Linked DNA regions of Homo sapiens: region 2 is linked to region 1. Evidence: fine-mapped expression QTL. Tissue or cell type: whole blood. Region 1 holds a variant in brackets; the other region holds the start of a gene. All regions are shown on one strand. Distances are between the middles of the regions.

The links. PIP is the estimated chance that this variant, and not a neighbour inherited with it, causes the effect.
Region 2: it holds the start of C1orf226, and the variant in region 1 is fine-mapped to the expression of C1orf226 in whole blood (TOPMed, PIP above 0.99).

What each region holds. Positions count from the first base shown.
Region 1 is chr1:162,073,876-162,076,636 of GRCh38, reverse strand. All of the region lies in intron 1 of NOS1AP (nitric oxide synthase 1 adaptor protein), which reads right to left. Among named protein-coding and RNA genes, the nearest start is that of NOS1AP, 5.6 kb to the right of the region's middle. The variant C/T (reference allele first, on the strand shown) is at 1,669.
Region 2 is chr1:162,380,478-162,383,108 of GRCh38, reverse strand. It overlaps C1orf226 (chromosome 1 open reading frame 226), which reads right to left and starts at 1,381. Exons shown (of 2, transcript NM_001085375.2): 1 at 891-1,381. The coding sequence starts at 1,207. RefSeq lists a silencer at 436-730.

The sequences.
Region 1 (2,761 bases):
GCCTTGGCCTCCCAAAATGCTGGGATTACAGCAGTGAGCCACCGCGCCCAGCCTAGTGTTTCTTTTTAATGTGATGAAAATGTTCTAAAATTGACTGTGGTGCTGGTAGTACAGATCTGTAATATCTTAAAAATCACTAAATTATACATTTTAAATTAGTGAATTGTATGGTATGTGAACTACATCTCAATAAAACTATTAGAAAGGAGGGAACTCAATAGTAAAAAGCCAATCCAACTTTTAAATGAGCAAAGGATCAGAATAGACATTCTCCAAAGAAAATATATAAATGGTCTTTTCCAAAAACAGAAAGGAAGAAGAAAAGTAGCAAAGATCAAGTTTGCAGGGTAGGGCAAAAAGGCAGGAAGGAACGGCCATGGGCATGGTCCCAGGCTGCTGGGGAGGGTAGACAGCAGGACAAGGGCAGCAAAAAGGTCACTGAGGAGCTAAGAGCATCCTCAAGGCAACAAAGGTATAAAGGGAAGGCAGGTAATTATAGCCAGCGAAAGCATTCTGAAAGTTTGAGTCTTGGGAGTAGCTGCATTATGAGTAGGCAATAGTAAACAGTGAGTCAAGCCTGATTAGTATAGATAACTGGCAAAGGTCATCATTAGATGTGGCTGCATGATTTTGACCACTAAAAAGGACTGGGACATTGTGGGCAAAGGAACTACGACTGAAAGCCATAAAATCATGAAATGTACAGCTAACGTGGAAATAGATTTGTCCATCAAATCCCAAGATACCAGGTGTGGAGGAACATACTGGGACATCTGAGAGCAATGTAAGGACAAATAAAATAGGTGTCATTTCAGAGCAGTACTGTATCTTTGGAACTCACTGCCCCCCACCAAAAAAAAAAGTAGTCTGGGCAGAAGATAAGTGTTTTTAAAAGCATCTGGAAAAGCATAAGAAAGTGAACTACGTCTCCTCCTTAATGATGACATCAGAAAATACATCAGACCCTTAATCTGAATTGCTACTGTTCCAGAACCCTGGAAGACAGGACCCTTAGTCTGGGTGGAGAGAAGGGAGAAAGGGGACATAAACACCCAGTGTATAGTGGAATGGTTCTGAGAGCTCTGTACCATGCCATGCAGGCTCAGACGAGTCAGGGATACCCCATTTACGGTGACCAAATGTCATTCATCTGGAGGCCTTCATGGCCGTATGTTTAAGAGGCATCCACAGATATCCTGCTGAGGTTACTGGAATCTCTAAAATCCACATCAGGGAAACCATCAACCAATGAAGCCAGGTAGCAAGGAAGGAAATATAGCCAGAGAATTCAGCTTCAATCTGACCACATGCTCCCAAGCCACAAAATCACTCAGCAATGATATTTACTGCTTTCAGACTTTCCACAATTGGTCATTTCTTCCACTTGACAATTTTTCATTGTGACTATGTTTGTACCTGATGTTGAGGCTTGGGAGGGGGAGATACACCAAGGCATGAGGCAAGGTCCTCAAAGAACATTCCATATCACCAGAGAAGATATATGCAGAGAGGAAAAAACAGAATTTTGTGTGGTAAACAGCTTCAGCAATATCTCTCATCCCACGTGCAATCTTGCAATGTGAACTTGACATTCCCCCATCAAGAAGTAGGGCTTATGTCTCTTCCCTAATAGCCTGTTTTGACCAACAGGATGTGGCAGAAGTGACC[C/T]TATGTAACTCAGAAAGACCCAACCTTAAGAGCTTCTGCTTTCCTGCTTGGAACACCCCCTACTGAAAACCAGCTGCCAAACAAAAGGGCCACCATGCTGTGAGGAAATCCAAGCCAGCCAGTGAAGAGAATAGTCACATGAAGGACGACCAAGGCACAGTCATATGAGTGAAGCCTTCTTGAACATTCCAGCCTAGCTGTGGATGAATGCAGCAAAGTGAGTGATCCAGTCAACGCCATAAGCAACAGAAGAACAGCCCAGCCAAGCCCTGCCTGAATTCCTGAGCCATGATTCATAAGCAAATTAAACAGTTATTGTTTCAAGCTACTGAGTCTTGAGGTCGTTTGTTTTGAAGTGATGGATAACTGAAACCAGTTTGAAGCCAGGGAACCAGGGATAAGTCCTGGTTCTGTTATTATCTGACTATGTGACCTTGGGTCCATGACTTCCCCTCCAAACTTCAATTTCCTCATCTGTACAATGATGGGGTGAGGGGGTTGTACTAGATGAGCCATGGTGCTTTCCAGTTCTGACCATCTGTATCATACACGCAGATATAAGGGAACAATCTAGGCAATGAGTGTTAGGACTACAAAGGGAGCAACTATTAATACTTCAGGTTTGAGTGAGCCTTGGAGGAGGTGAAAGAACCATGGACCTGGAGTCAAAAGCCCTGGAGTGTGAGGATTAAGTGAGGCAGAGGCTAGAATAATGTATGGCACATAGTAAGTGCTCAATAAATATCATTAACTGATACACCAATTTGCAACTCTGGACAAATTAATCTCTCTGATCTCCATTTTTTGGTCTGAAAAATCGAGATAACACTAATGTGCCTGTGCCTGTCTCTATAAGAGGAAAAGTCTTTGTATGTAGAAGTCCAATGCAAATCAAAAATCACCTACAGATATAAGATATAACTATTATTAATACTCTTATTATCCTTTGTACCCATAGCATTAAAAGTCTCTTTCTCACCAAGAGAGGAGAGACAGTCAGTTGATGGCACTGGCCACCAGGAAGACATACTGGGAGATCAGGAGGCAGTTACTAAGGAGCCACAGGCTCTCAGGGCATGTGAGATTTACCCAC
Region 2 (2,631 bases), 310 kb before region 1:
TCCAACTCCAACTGCACTTTCAACCCACCCCACCCAATAACTGCTCTACTCCTTGGGCTCTGGTTCTTGGTTTGGCACATAGGCCTTAGCAATTTCAGCATAACAGTAGCTTTTGGCCTGGTCCATGCTTACTCAGTGTTCAGAGCAGCACAAAGTGCTGGCCTCTAGAAGACAGGATAGAGACCGCTGGTGAAGCTTGTCAAATCAGAACCCAGGCAGTAAGTCCTGTGTTTAAAACAGGGAATGTGAGGGCATTCCCACCTCAGATGCACAGGTGTTTAAAACAAGGCCTGGAAAGAGCCTGTTGGTAGGAGGGGGAAGAACAGGAGGGCTGCTACAGGGGGCTTCTCCCACTGTGCCCTAGTGGGCTGTGACAGGTGCAGGCTTCTCCACAAGCAACAGTCTACGGCAGCGCTTCTCAGCTATGGCCGGGCATCAGAATCTACCTGGGGACCTTCTGGGCAATAGCTGGGTTCAAATCCAGCTCTGCCAAGTACTATCTTTGTGACCTCAAGCTATTTACTTTGTCTGTCTGAACGTGAGTTATCTGCAGGATGGAAATATCATCTACCTCCCAGGGCTGCTGGGAGGGTTAGACAAAATGATGCAACTATAGCCTGCAGCACAGAGCTGAGGACATGGTGTGCACTCAGCAACCTTCAGCAGCACAGAGCCGAGGACATGGTGGGCACTCAGCAACCTTCAGCTGTGGCTGCAGAAGGTGAAGCCAGCTCCCGAGAACGTGGCCTGATCCTGCAGCTTTTCAGTACAGGACAATCTCACACCCCTCCCTTGGGGCTGTTCTCCTGTGCAGACACTGCAGTTTGTCCCTGTACCTTTTCAAGTGGGTCCACAGAGGGGCATGGATGTTGGGCGGGTGAGGGGCTCACCTTTCATCCTCTAGCCAAGCCTCTGGAGCCGCGTCAGTCCCACTGGCCAGCTGTGCTCCTGCAGTCTTGTTGATCTCTGTCACACCCACACTGCCCAGGCTGGAGGGCTCCTTTCTCCTCAGGAAGTCATTCACTTTGGCCCCCATGGCTTTGCCCAGGTTCTTGAGGTGCTGGCTGCTGCCCACCCAGAGTCCTGGCCCCCCAGGCTCACCAGAGCCCAGAGGGGCAGAGCCGGGGGCCACGGGCTTGGACAAGTGGGGGAAGGAGCGGCTGGCCTGGAGCTTTGGAGTGAGGGCTGTGTTCAAATTCTCAAACATGCCGTGGTCAACTATGAACAAAGAGGCGACAGAGAGGCATGATGAGGAAAGGGGAGCGGTACCTGTGCTCTATCATTCAGTTTTTCCTTATCCCACACCCAAAACCTGTAACTTCCAAGGCTTTGGAAATATTCAAGAAAGAGCCAGCAAAGACACTCTTGAACTTTCCAGTGTAGTTTTCTTGATGGGACAGGAACTAGAAATTCTAGCTCTGCCCCACCCAAGTTAATCAGTGACTAATGCTAGCCATAAAAAAATAAAGTTGTTCCTGTAAACCTGCCTCCTTGACTCATGGGCTTGGCCCCTTTACCTTGGAGTCACCACGCCCTTTGGAGTAAAGAAAAAATGAGGATGAAGCAATGAAACATGACATTTTTACATCACCGTAAGCACGTGCTGAGCTCTCAGTGGGTTGGAAGCTGGTGGAGGGATGGCATGGATGAGGCTTGGTGTTAGAAGCTCCCCACTGAAGGCCATGAGTATAGCACATATTCTCCACAAAAAATGGGGCAGCAGCTCCTCAGGTCTACAGAGGTGGGCCTTGAGCGAGTGGGCCAGCTCTTGCAGAGGTGCTAAGTGGTGGTTCAGAATCAGTTCGTACCAAATGGATAGGAACTCGGTGCCAGTGAAGCACGAGGATCCCAATGAACATCAGCTTACTTAATCCTTACAACCACCTAGGGAGGTGGTACATGGAAGGATATCTACCTACAGATGAAGCCTGCAGGACTCCGCGTAATGCAGTGCCGTGCCTGAGGTCACACAGCTAAATACTAGCAGGGCTGGAGCTAGAACTCAGGCCTTCTAACCCACAGCTCAGGGCTCTGTCCACAACTTTGCCCTGCTATAGATCATGGAACAGCTGCCTATATATGCCTGGTACATGGTCCTTCTTGTAGGGATCCTCTTTGGCTTGAAAAATTAACTCAAAGAGCTGGGTATAAACCCATTAGGTTGTAAAGATTTGCAAGGCAGAGAGCATGCCTCATTCATCTTTGTATTTTCAACACCTAGCCTGGGTTTGGTACCTAGCTGTGCTCAATACAGATCTTGAATCGCCAAAACCCATTTTGTAGATAGAAAATTGTGGTGGCCAAGGTGGTAGCTTAAAGGTTTGTTATTGAAATGACTGGAGCTCCAGGCTCTAAGCCATGCTGTCCACACACTCACACTTGGCCATCCTCTCCCTATCTGGAAATCCAGCTCAGTCATCAGGCAGCCAGACCCACTCTGAGGCCTTGGAATCTGGGTCAAGGTTTCTGTCTACACCAACTACCCCAGATATGTTGTCAGTCTGAGGAAAGGAGATCGCTCGATCATTTGATGACTAGGCTCCTTTCCTTGTGAACACCTCTGCTAAGTGTCTATTTTCACTGAGCCTCTTCTAAGAGTAACTGGGGTTAGGGTGTACTTTTTCTTCTGCT